2 linked regions of the Homo sapiens genome follow. The protein of the gene in region 2 interacts with the protein of the main gene of each other region in a pairwise test. Each region holds a gene or a part of one and is shown on either strand. Other genes may lie near its edges.

The links. The genes of interacting proteins can lie anywhere in the genome.
Region 1: the proteins of RETREG3 (region 2) and ANKRD46 interact in binary tests that used the Homo sapiens proteins (3 or more experiments, as listed by UniProt).

The regions. Positions count from the first base shown.
Region 1 is NC_000008.11:100,521,757-100,528,784, forward strand, and holds part of ANKRD46 (ankyrin repeat domain-containing protein 46), read right to left. Parts: intron 6,248-7,028; coding exon 6,089-6,247; intron 1,016-6,088; coding exon 799-1,015; 3' UTR 1-798.
Region 2 is NC_000017.11:42,585,348-42,592,375, reverse strand, and holds part of RETREG3 (reticulophagy regulator 3), read left to right. Parts: intron 1-213; coding exon 214-320; intron 321-4,511; coding exon 4,512-4,542; intron 4,543-5,484; coding exon 5,485-5,611; intron 5,612-6,238; coding exon 6,239-6,323; intron 6,324-7,028. UniProt on the Homo sapiens protein: Endoplasmic reticulum (ER)-anchored autophagy regulator which exists in an inactive state under basal conditions but is activated following cellular stress.

The DNA of each region.
Region 1 (7,028 bases), on a different chromosome or scaffold from region 2:
CTGCTAACTATTCAGTAGAAAAAGGATTTTCTGACTGTAATTCTGATGAACTGTTATCTTTGATGACTAGGATACTCGGGAAAATTGGAAAGTGAACAAAATGAACTCATTTATTTTTCACAGATATTAACAAGCAAAGCAGTTTACAAAAAGATCAAAAATTATCCTAAAAACAAATAAATATAAGATCAAATCAATTATCTTTGAACAAAATATAGCTCATTTTCAAAAGTTTTGTTTGGTTTGTGACTAGACTTAAAAATACTAAAATAAGCCAAATAGATGCTAACAATACTAATTTGCACACAAGATTTGAAAAAAGTACTTCAAGTTTTATCTCTTATCCCTAGAGAAAGTAAATAAAAAGTGGCTCTTGCAAAAATAAATGAAAACAAAACCACCAACAAAAACTAATCATATAAGATACTGTTTTTCTTTTTGAATACTTCAATTGGTCCTATATTAGGATAAGGTTTTGATAGCAAGGACTTCCTAGCTTCTTCCTTTATCTTCCATTCTCTAGTCACTTCCGTGTTTTTATCAAACAAGGCTACGTGTAGGCTTTCCTACAAAGTCAGGTTGAGTCAGAGGTAGCGTTAGGATGCAATATACTTGATCATAGTATGTAGTTAGTTCAAATGAACACATCATTATCTAAAAGGATTACAATAATTAAAAATGCAAAAAGAACATGTACTGCCCTCACTGCTTTGCGCTAAGAAAAATTCTGAGAAACTGAGAACAAACATTGGAAGCCAGGAAACAGGCAATTAATTGCCTCATCTTCCATGAGCTCCTTTAATGCACCAGTTCAGGCTGGTTTTCCACGAAGGGTAGCACCCCACTCACATAATAAGCAATGCCAAGAGACAGCAAAGCAATGACGAAGATCAACAGCAATACTCTCCAGAAGCCCAGATCCTCCACAAACTCCTGCCACGTGGTTCGGAAGCTGGAGAGGACTCCTTCACCTTGCTGCAGGTTGGGATTGAGGAGTGAATGGCTTTCCATGGCACTGTGGAAGAAGAAAGAGCAAAAAGGGCATTAAAAAAACACAGCAATTCCAAAAACATAAAACCACAGGGCTACTATTTAGAAAAGACCAAATACACACACACACACACACACACACACACACACACACACACATATATATATATACACACTCTTACATGCTTACGTATCTGAACAATATATACTAAACTGTAAATTGCTAAATGGTAATGAGTATGTTTCTCTTGGTTTAGAATTTAGTAAACTCAAGTTAAAAATTCTATTTAAAAGGTCCTGGCTGGGCGTGGTAGCTCATGCCTGTAATCCCGACACTTTTGCAGGCCAAGGAGGGAGGATCACTTGAGCCCAGGAGTTCGGGACCAGCCTGGGTAACATAGCGAGACACCATCTCTATTTTTTTTTAAGGTGTCCTGAGCAGAAGTCTTGAAATAGGTTATGAGTTGTCTCCATCAAGATATTAAACCACAACACATTCTTGTTATGTTAAATTTAGAAGATTCAAAGTGCAGACTCATAATTTAAGAATGTGTTAATACGAATAAGCAGACATGCAGGTGATGACACCTGAAGAGGACAGTCATCTACAAGTCAAGCAGAGAGGCCTTAGAAGAAACCAACTTTGTGACACCTTGATCTCAGACTTCTAGGCCCTAGAACTGAGAAAGTAAATGTCTGTTGGGGGGAGGGGGGAAGATGAGTAAATCTAAAAAGTCACTTATACAGTGTGTGTGAATCTTGAAGTTAAAAGGGAATTTTTATTAATTTAGTTCAATAATCTGACCAATGAAGGAATTCCTTCTTTAATTGTAATTCTCTAATAATGGAAGGTTACTCCTCAGCCTGTTGTACATGTGGACTCGTCTAGTCATCAGAAATTCTTTTTTTTTTTTGGAGACAGAATCTCACTCTGCCGCCCAGGCTGGAATACAGTGATGCGATCTCAGCTCACTGAAACCTCCACCTCCCCAGCTCAAGCAATCCTCCTGCCTCAGCCCCCCAGGTAGCTGGGACTACAGGTGCATGCCACCATGGCTGGCTAATTTTTGTATTTTTGGTAGAGACAGGGTTTCGCCATGTTGCCCAGGCTGGTCTTGAACTCCTGAGTTTAGGTGATCCACCTGCCTTGACCTCCCAAAGTGCTGGGATTACAGGCATGAGCCACCACAGCTGGCCTAGTCATTAGGAATTCTTAATAGTTTCTTCCTATTGGTGTTAGTTCTATCTTGTACAGTAAGACAGAATATGTTCATTTCTCTTCTGCATAAAGGCTAGTCTAGTTGAAAATAAGGTAGTGCAAATACCATAAAAACACTGATTCTGGTTTTCAGAACTTTATCAATGAGAAATACGACTACCACAAAGAGAAACTGCATCTGACTTTGGTACTTGGAAGCACTAAGGGAAGAGCACTCATGGTTATATCACAACATACAGGCCCAATAAGAGGGTATCATTTAGATTAAAGCCACCATAACCATGATCATAGGAATCAACTATCTACTGGTTATCAAAGTTCATTACTATCCTTCCTAACTCCCATAAAACAGTATCTTAGAGTCTCATTCATTATGAACTATGAATAAACATGCAAAACTGACATTTTTTAACCTACAACTTTATTTTACTTCTTGATACCATCAAACAAAAGTCCTTCAGCCTTTACCAACATTAGAGGTCTTCTCTGATCATGGGAAACTGACTTCCTAATGGGCCAGTCTGCTTAACACCCAAACTTTTTTTTTTTTAATAATTAAAACATGTTTATTCTCTGAATAAGAGATGATGTTTTCAGTGGGAATCTACAACACCACAGTAATTTTGGAACACTTGACAGCAAGTTTAAAAATAAGATTAGAACTTTGAGAAGGCCTAAAAGAGTAAAACCACAAATAGATAACACAGTTCTGCAGAGGCTTAGTTTGACCTATGTAAAATTTATTGATTACGAGTTGACATGCCCTTATACATGTTAGGTATAAAATGAAAATTCCATGAGCATTCTCATTGTTCTTCAGAGCTCATGAAGCTCTGCCAATCGGGATATTCTATAAAGACTTTATCCAATGAAATGCTTTCTACTGTCCAGGGAATATCTGATTCTAACATAATGGGGTGTGTGTATAATCTTTTTTTAAAAACGTGATATCTACACTGTCTTTGGGGGGTGTGTTTGCATGTATCTTTTTTAAAAAATGTGATAGCTATACTGTTTTTGTTATCCCATACCTACAAAGTAAAAAGGAATTAAACTTAGAGTTATATGGAGGAGTGGGGAAATATTTTTCATTAACTTGATTTATAGTCCCTTATAAGGCCTGCAGAAGTTGTGCTGTCTTGGGGGAATCCTAAGAGAAATGGAAAATATTATAGTAAATACATTTAAAACCCTGCTTTATCTTCTGCTCTAGAAAAAGCCATTACACAATTATGCCATAATGCCATGTGCTAGCCAATCTCTTTAAACTTTTTCATCTACATTTATTGAGACATAATTCACATCCCATAATATTTACCTTTTGAAACTGTACAATTCAGTGGCTTTTCATATATTCCCCAAATTGTACAACCATCTCTTCTAATTCCAGTACACTTTCAGCACCTCTATAAGAAACTCTGTACCTATTAGCAGTCACTCCCATTGCCCCTTCTCCCAGCTTCTAGTCTACTTTCTCATCTACTTTCTGTCTCTATGGATTTGCTTATTCTGGACATTTCACATAAACAGAATCATGTAATATGTGGCCTTTTGTGCCTGGCTTCTCCAATGTAGCATGTTTTCAAAATTTATCCATGCTGTAGCATGTATCAGTATAATATAATAATATTAGTAATATTCCATTGGATGAACAGATGATGTTTATTCCTTCATCAGCTGATGGATATCTGGGTGGTATCAATGTTTTGGCTATTATGAATAATGCTGCTATGAACATTCATATATAAGTTTTGTGTGGACATATGTTTCAATTTTCTTTGGTATATTCCTAGAAGTGGCACTGCTGGTCAGATGGTAACTCTACGTGTAGCTTTTTGAAGGACTGCCAGACTTTTCCAAAGAAGCTGCTCTACTTTCCATTCCCATCAGCAGTGTATGAGGGTTCCAATTTCTCCACATCCTCCAGAGCACTTGTTATTATCTATCTTTTTAATTGCAGCTATCCTAGTGGGTGTGAAGTGGCATTTCACTATGGTCCTCATTTGCATTTTCCTAATGACATTACCTTTCAACTTTCTGATTTAAGCTTCAACCACTGAATTTCTACCATGACACTGAGGGGTAGGAGTAAGATAGGAAAACTAGGTAATAAAAGTGTTAATAACTCAATTTTTGAAAAACGAGCTTTATACAGTGTTACAATTAATACAAACTCTCATGCTGCAGTGAAATGGCAGGTATGTGAAGGAAGCAGGAGTACTTCCACTGCTCATCCAATGGAATATTATTTTGTACTTATCACTTCTTAGTAAGTAATCACAACTGAGGCAAACTAATGCTAAAAGTATATTTCTAATAAAAGGGTGCCAAGAAACTGGCTATTAACAAAATAAAGATCCTAAAAATATACCAAACAAGAACACATTCTTGGTTGTTTTTCATGGTAAAGAAGCTTAAAGTACTTAATGTTATTTCATAAAAAGATAAAAATAAATTTCAAGTTATCTTAGAGGAAAAAATCTTTAACAAATAATAGTTAACTCAATATTGTTAAAGTGCTTATGCCATTCTGTCAATCCAAAGTACAGAGGAGAGAAAAACAAGGGCTTGCAAATACATCTCTGACTTCTTGATTATCTATTTGTCAGCTTTCAGTGATCACTCAAGAGGAGTATGCACTGTTCCAGAAGTAAAGCTCTTGGATTTCTTTAGGACTGTATTAAAGTGCTTGAAAGTATCTGAACAAAATAGACCTAAGCTTGAGAGTGGAATTAATGGTCCCCAAAGAGCACATCATCTGGCACACGAGAGGAGGAAAGCAAAAATGGGTACAAAGGAATCAAATGAAGGGTAAGCTATGAAAAACAGAGAGGATTTCATTTAGAACTCACAGAAACAATGATCCCAATGGTCTAAGTGGATTATGTGATTCTAAATCCAAGTCCTAGTCCATCAGCTACTAGGTAAACAGCTGATGTGGGCCCTTGCTTATTCTATTTACAACCTACCGAGAATACTGGGAAGAGGCTATGGAAGCTCAGCATCCTTTTTCCTTCACACGTATAATGTGGAAGGCTGAAACTGCATGGTGGTCAACCAGATAATATGCTACTAGAACTAAGTCTGGCCTATTAACTTTACCTGTTGAGCCCAGTGACATCAGGAGAAAAGATGGTGCGCCACCTTTTTGGAGCTCTCTGAACTGCATTCTCCATTGCTTCTAGATGAGAAATGATGAGCTATTCAAGACCCTGTCAGTTACCACATCTTAGCTTCGATTACTCACAGGAATCCAAATTTCATTAGCTCCAACTCATATGAAAGTCACTTTCACTTTCACATTACTGAACTGTGCATGTGTTAAATACTATCTTGCTTTCCCTCTCTTGTTTTCTTGTTTCTCAGCATTCCACTTCCCTACCCTTGAAACTACCTTTCAGTCTTTTCTAAAATTGCCCAAGTTCTTGGCTTTACTTATACTTCTCTTTTTTTTGAAATTCCATTCTTTTTGTGACCTGTACTTAAAATCATCAAGCTCCGGCTTCCTCCCCTCAGATTCATTTGTTACTATTTCTCCTTTGTACTGTCAATACAGCAGGTGGCTAACAGAACATTATGCGCACATGACATGTAGTACTTTCTGTTAATAGCTTCTCAATTGTAATCTGCAGTCATAAGGTCCTATATAAAGTTCAAGTTGCACTTAAAAGCAAATGAATATTAAAGTTCACAAAGTTAACCATAAATCCACATACTTAAAGTGACTTTCCCCTTAAAAAATCGTATTATCTTGCTGGGTGTGGCTACATGTGCCTATAGTCCCAGCTAGTCAGGAGGCTGAGGCAGGAAGAATGCTTGAGCCCAGGAGTTCAAGGAATGAGTAATACAGTGAGAAAAAAAAAGTTGTATCTCCAGTACCTTTCACTCTCAGCTGTTTGCATGGTCTCCAGTTTCGAGTGGGTTCCTCTGTTAAATCCTTTCACCTCCTGTTCTTCCAAAGATTCCAGCAATCGGATGACATCTTTATTTACTCCTCTGCGCTTTGCCAGAACTAAAGGGGTAGCACCTTGATGATTGCTAAAAAAAAAAAAAAAAAAAAAAGTTTATAAAAATAAAGAAGCCATCATAGCAGTTATACTACATTGTCAGTTCCATTTTTAGTACCCACTTATATAGATCTCAGTGAAGAAAGAATGGGCCCAATTAGGGCCTACCCTAGGGCTGTGGGGAACTAAAGGAGTATTTGGCTCACTACAACTCTTCCACCATGAGCCTTGACCATCTGGCTGCAATCAGATGTTGACTGATGGGATTTTTGCACAGTTCATCACAGAGGCCGTTATCCTGTTAACCAAACACGTCCCCCACCTCCAGACCCCATCCTCACACTGAATGTCTCCTCAACAGCAGATTATGGTAGAAGTAATAGCCGTGTGCCTCTATTTTTTTCTGAATTGTACTATAGAAAGTGTTTATGAAGAACAAATCACCAAGGGGAAAAAAAGGATGGGTCCAGTTTAACTCAAAAGTAAAACCCAGAGCTGAGCCAAACATCCAGTGTAGCTGAATTTTGAATTAACCCTTGTTTTTCTTTTTTTTTTTTTTTTTACTTCCAGGGAAAAGAAAAAAGAGAACATATAGTCAAAAAAGTGGATAAATCTAGTTCTAGATTCATTCTTATTTGATATTTACATTTTATGAGACAAGTACTTTTTTTAAAAAAGTCTAAGAAAAAAATGTCAAATAAGCTGCTTCGGTTCACGCAGCTATTTAGCGCTAATAATAGGTTAGAACCCCAATCACATTAAATCCTGCAGTCAATTCCTACCCCATTTTGTCCTGCAGAAACAAAAGCATT
Region 2 (7,028 bases):
AGCAGCAAATTATTTTCTCTGCCCCATAGGTAGAGTAGTTAAGGTCCAGAAGGTTTAAATGATTTACCCTAGGTGTATAACTAGTTAAGTGTCAGAACAAAAAAAGCTAGACCTCAAGTCTGTTTACCACAGAGCCCATCGTACACACGTGGCCTTTTCTGAAATTAGGATAACTAGGTAAATGATCTTTCTTCTGTTTTTCTTCCTCTGTAGGTTTTTTGCCCTGACATCTCTTCGTCTTGTGTTTTTACTTGCATTTGGCTTGATGATCATTGTGTGTATTGATCAATGGAAGAACAAAATCTGGCCTGAAATAAAAGGTGAGTTTGGTAGCATTTAGAACAATCTGAACTGAAGATGGCCTTTCCTATAATTTGTACCTTTAGTATTAGGGGTTTATGAGGAGGTGTATGGAGCTGGGGACTGTCTTTTGAAGTCTGAATCATTTGCTTTAGGAGGCACTTGAAGGGCTTGTGCCCCAATTATGGTTCCTTAGAGCTGGGTTCTGCCCTTCCCATTGTTACTAAGCACAGGAAATCTGTACTCACCACCTGAGTTATTTTTGCCAACATAATGGCCTGAGGAATAAGTAGTCCTCAAATGAAAAATAATAAATTATCGTTATTGGACACTGCATCTTTATTGAGGCAGTACCTCTCAGGAATTCCTTTTACATTGCTCATTTGCAAAACACTAGGCTAGGCAATTGTGACTTATAGAAAGTACCATGATGGCCGGGCGCAGTGGCTAACGCCTATTAGTAACCCCTGCACTTTGGGAGTCCGAGGCGGGTGGATCACCTGAGGTCAGGAGTTCGAGCCCAGCCTGGCCAACATGATGAAACCCCGTCTAATAAAAATACAAAAAATTAGCTGGGCATGGTGATGCATACCTGTAATCTCAGCCACTAAGGAGGCTGAGGCAGGAGAATCACTTGAACCTGGGAGGCGGAGGTTGCAGTGAGCCGAGATCGTGCCACTGCACTCCAGCCTCGGTGACAAGAGCAAAACTCAGTCTCAAAAAAAAAAAAAAAGAAAGTACCATGACATGTGGTGTCTTTTTAAAAAGCTAATACATACATAAACAAATGAAAAATTAAGTGACAATTATAGACCAGCACCACAGATGTCACAGTGCAGTATGTGATTAGTATACTTAGCATGTATTTTTTCCCTAGCCTGAGAGTGGAACAAAGCAAAAGATTTGAACAGATTGAGAAAAAAGTCTGTTTCTAGAGAGTCCAGTGGCTTGATTAGTCTGAGGAACCAGAAGTTGCAAAGCATTTCCTGACATCAGAGAATTGATCATATGGCCAGGATGAAGGTTCATTAAAGGGAGTGCTAGGAAATAAAACTGAAAGTATGTTGGGATTAGGTTTTTTGTTGGTTTCTTTTCTTTTCTTTTCTTTTGAGACGGAGTCTCACTCTGTTGGCCAGGCTGGACTGCAGTGGCATGATCTTGGCTCACTGCAACCTCCGCCTCCCAGGTTCAAGTGATCCTCCTGCTTCAGCCCTGCTAGTAGCTGGGATTACAGGCACGCACCACCATGCCTGGCTAATTTTTGTATTTTTGTTAGAGACGGGGTTTTACCATGTTGGCCAGGCTGGTCTCGAACTTCTGACCTCAGGTGATCCACCCGCCTAGGCCTCCCAAAGTGCTGGGATTACAGGCGTGAGGCACCGCACCTGGCGCATTCTTTTTTTTCAGACAGAGTCTTGGTCTGTCACCCAGGCTGGAGTGCAGTGGCGCAATCATGGCTCACTGTGGCCTCAACCTTCCGGGCTCCAGCAATTCTCCCACCTTAGCCACCTGAGCAGCTGGGACTATAGGCACTTGCCACCATGTCCAGCTAATTTTTGTATTTTTTCTATAGATGGGGTTTCTCCATGTTGGTCAGGCTGGTCTTGAACTCCCAACCTCAGATGATCTGCCCGCCTCAGCCTTCCAAAGTACTGGGATTACAGACGTGAGTCACCGCGCCCAGCCCTATTCTTATTTTTTAACAAACTAGGTCTCACTGTGTTGTCCAGGTTTTGGAGTACAGTGGCATGATCATAGCTCACTGCAACCTCAAATCCCTGGGCTTAAGTGATCCTCCCACCTCAGTCTCCCAATTAGCTGGGACTACAGGTGCATACCACCACACCCAGCTAAGTAAAAAAAATTTTTTTTGAGACAGAATCTCACTTTGTTGCTCAGGCTGGAGTGCAGTGGCGCGATCTTGGCTCGCTGCAACCTCCACCTCCCAGGTTCAGATGATTCTCCTGCCTCAGTCTCCTGAGTAGCTGGGACGACAGGCGTGCACCACTACGCCCAGCTAATTTTTTTGGTATTTTTAGTAGAAATGGGGTTTCGCCATGTTGGCCAGGCTGGTCTTGAACTCCTGACCTCAAGTGATCCGCGTGCCTTGGCCTTCCAAAGTGCTGGGATTACCTGCGTGGGCCACCACGCCCAGCCGATAATAAAGATTAATTTAGTAGCATTTTTAGGACCACATGGAAGGAGGAAAAGTGGAACAGGATGACCTGTTAGGAGACTGTGGCAGTGTCTTTGTGAGAAGTAGTCAGAGAGGCCTCAGTGAATACAAATGATGGATGGCCTGGAGAGCTGTGAATAAGGAAGATCAAGACATAAATAGTTGGGGCCAGGTGCAGTGGATCATGCCTGTGATCTCAGCACTTTGGGAGGCCAAGGCAGGAGAATTGCTTGAGCCAAGGAATTTGAGACCGGCCTGGACAACGTGGCGAAACCTTGTCTCTACAAAAAATAAAAAAATTACCCAGGCATGGTGGTGTGCACCTGTGGTCCCCAGCTACTTGGGAGGCTGAAGTGGGAAGATCCCTTGAGCCCTGGAGGTTGAGGCTGCAGTGAGCCGTGATCGCACCACTGTACTCCAGCCAAGACAACAGGGCGACACCTGTCTCAGAAAATAATAATTGTTATATATGTATAATAAAAGACATAAGTGGATGGGGGTTAAAGCTAAGAGAGTGGCAGAATGGCATTACACTTAGCAGGCAAAGGCAGACAGGAAAGTTGGTTTGAAGGGGTGAGAGAGGAAAACTGATGTAGATTTTAGGCAGGTTAATTTTGAAGTGTTGGCAAGATATTCAAACCAGAGTATACAGGTTTTAAATACATGCCCATCATATTTTATAGAGACTTCAAGGAATCGTGTAGTTCATCTGCCTATCTAATGGCTGGTGAATCTCAAAAGACTTATACATCATTCAGGTAGATAATGGGTCTCCCCATTTTTTTTTTTTTTTGGTTAGAGACAGGGTCTCACTGTGTTTCCCAGGATGGACTTGAACTCCTGGGCTCAAGTGATCCTCCTGCCTCAGCCCCCCAAGGAGGCAGAACTATAAGTGAGCATCACTACACCTAGCTCTGGGTCTCTTTTTAAAGAGAACAGGCAGGCTGGGTGTGGTGGCTCACACCTGTAATTCCAGCACTTTAGGGAGGCTATGGTGGGTGGATCACCTGAAGTCAGGAGTTCAAGACCAGCCTGGCCAACATAGCAAAAACCTGTCTCTACTAAAAACACAAAAATAGCCAGGCGTGGTGGCAGGTGCCTATAATCCCAGCTACTTGGGAGGCTGAGGCAGGAGAATTGCTTGAACACCAGAGGTGGAGGTTGTAGTGAGCCAAGATCGTGCCACTGCATTCCAGCCTGGGTGACAGAGTGAGATTCTGTCTCAAAAAAATAAAGAGAACAGGCAGATTTCGGCTGGGTACGGTAGCTCACGCCTGTGATGCCAGCACTTTGGGAGGTGGAGGAGTTCGAGAGCAGCCTGGCCAACATGGTGAAACCCCATCTCTACTAAAAACACAAAAATTAGCCAGGTATGGTGGCGTGTGCCTGTAATCCCAGTTACTCGGGAGGCTGAGTGAGCTGAGATCACGCCACTGCACTCCAGCCTGGGCTACAGAGCAAGACCCTGTCTCCAAAAAAAAAAAAAATTAGCCGGGCATTGTGGTGGGTGCCTGTAGTCCCAGCTACTCAGGAGGCTGAGGCAGAAGAATGGGAGGCGGAGCTTGCAGTGAGCCAAGATCGTGCCACTGCACTCCAGGCTGGGCAACAGAGCGAGAAGACTCTGTCTCAAAAAAAATAAACACAACAGGTGGATTTCTAGGGTTGGAGTTGTTACAACGTACCTTGTGTAGCCTGGCACAGATTGATGTGTATGGGTATCCCAGACACACTCAAGGGGTGAGATGGACCATTTTTCTTGTACACCTTGGCTTTCAGCTGAGGTCATTAGAAGGGGGCTCAAATAGTCCATTTGGACCTCCCTTCCTTCCCCTCGAAAAATGAGTAGGCATAAGTGATTATTCCCTTGTCTGCAGCTCCCTAACTGGCAGTATAACACAGTGTCTCCTTTTTTATCGGCTATTACTGTTTTCTTTTCCCCAACCTATTAAAACTTGAGCTGTCAGACCAACAGCCTAACATTTTCATGTTTAGTTTTCCCTACCAACTAATGCTGGTGTTTGTTTTAATATTGTAGTGCCAAGACCCGACGCATTAGACAATGAGAGGTATGGAACACTAATTAAATCCCTTTTTGTTGCTCTGATTCATTCTCTTGTAATATTCTGGTTACATGTTGTTAACCCCATGTTCTGGACACACAGTGTAAACTGAGAACCTAGGCTGTTCCAAATGATCATTTTAACACATCCTAAAGTTCAGGCAGCAATATGTTGAGATGGCCTGTGTCCTCTGATCTTTACAAGAGAAGTTTCTGAAAAAGAAGCATTACAGTGCCCCATAACCTGACATGCCAGGGAATCAGCTGCATTATTCAGTCCCAGTGAGAAAACTTAAAGGCAGCTAACTTCATTTGTCTCCTGGCTTTTATACCAGGTCATTTAGTGTTTTCTGTGACCTCTGGCTATTTAAAGTTCCCGGTCAGAAAACACATTGGTTCCTGGCATCAGCAAGTCAAAGCCAAAGATTCCTCTTGTGTCTTACAGCTCCTGCTTTCATTTCTCAGTTCATCCACTCCATTTGTTTGATCCAAAGAATTTTCTCTGCTGTGGTTTATTTTGGTTTTGCTTTATTTATTTTCTTTCTAAGGGGCACATCCACCATTTCCTCCCCCTTAGCAGCAGTGGTGTCAGTCAGACTATGCTCACTTTTATCCCTGGATTGCAATCACAGGGAATTGGAATGGTCTGAGTGCAAGGAAGAAAACGTTTCTAAGCACAAAGGGCCTTGGAGCTGGGGACAGGTTTACACACGTGGATTGGGCTGCTTGCTCATAGGGTGGAGTTGTCAGAACAAGTTTGTCCTCCTTGTACCTAAATTCAGATTTCAACCTGGTGAGCCAAGAAGAAAGTCATGCTTCACCTCCAAAGCACCTGGGCCTAGTCACTCCCCAAACCCCATTTAAAACCGGAAGCACTGGCTGCCTGCACAGCAAGATGGGGGGACCCTCAACACCCTCCTTTCACAGCTCCCCCTTCTCTCTCCCATAGCTGGGGCTTTGTGCACCCTCGGTTGCTCAGCGTGCCCGAGCTCTGCCACCATGTAGCTGAAGTCTGGGTTAGTGGGACCATTTTCATAAGGAATGTTTTGCTTTTCAAAAAGCAAAACCCAGGCAAGGTAAGACTCTTCCCTTTTTCACTTTCATCTCTGGCCTCTCAGTTCAGTTCATGCTAAACTGAAACAGCTCCTTTACTATGTGTCTTCATTCAAGAAAGTAAAGACTATGATGTTCATAGAGACAAAAGGAAGCTATAGGAAAGGCCTTCTGACCAGCCATTAGGACTAACACAGGAGCTTGGTGACTGCTCATTTGGTGTGGTTGCCACTTAGATGAGGCCGTTTTCTTGCTTCAAGATAGGAAAGAAAGCTTTCTTGTGTACATTCTGTGTCATATTAAATATGTGATAGGTTGTTGTGTTTTTTTGGGTTTTGTGTGTGTTTCTGTTGACTTAAAAAACCACCACCAACATTGCTTTCAGAGAGAATTTTTGGCTAAGTCCTATTCAAACCAATTTCTTGGCAGGAAAGGTGCAGCCCTATGGGGTTAGCCATGTAAAAGGAGTTTGAATAGAAGGGGACATGCTCCTTTTCTTCCCAAACAGAATCACCTTTGGATGCAACAGTGGCTGCACGTCCATGCTTGACTTACAGAGTCTTTCTGTCATATCTCTACCCTAACCCTTCACACCCACCCCAGTCCCCTGCCATGTGACAGAAACTTAATACTCTTTCTTGATTCCCCAGTTCTGCTTGCTGAGCTGTGGGATACTGACCTTTTTGGCTGTCTTGGGCCGCTACGTCCCTGGGCTTCTGCTGTCCTACTTGATGCGTAAGTATGACATATACCTCCCCTACAAAGTATACCCTGCTCATAGCTTTCCAACTATGGCTAACTCTAGGTGTGGGGAGAGGACTGTTATATTTCAATTCTCTAGGATATGACCTTTGCATATTTTCATGACCTGTTTAGTGTCATGAAAATATCCTTCTTTAGCAGGCTCTCCACATACAAAGTTCATTTCTTACCAAGTCAGAAATTGATGAGGGTCCACTAACATATATTGTTGGTATTACCAACTATAAAGGACTGCCTGTCCCTGTTTAAGGAGAGAATTTTTAGAGCCAGGGTATTGTCAGCAGAACATAACTCTTAGGGGTTTCTCTGCTAGGTTCTATTTATGCCAGAGTACTTTTTTCCCACTTGGAGCATAGTTTTGTAAATTTAGTTACTTCCTGTTGGCATGTACTCAGCTTGCTTGGGGCTGGAAGAACTAAGTACTTATGCCTGTGGCTTTTGTATATCAAAACCTCGCATGATTTGTTGTGTAATTTCCATTTATGGCTCAGTGACACCCATTGCCAGGTTCTGCCCTTGGCCTGTCAGCAGCATACTGTGCTGTGCACAACCCTGCAGTAGGCTTTGTGGGTGGCTGTAGAAGTCCCTGCCCTCAAAGACTCCTTCATGTGTAGGGGAGACTGGTGAAGATGACTGGCAGACTTGGGCAGATCTGTTCCACACTTTGTGTCCAAGCCC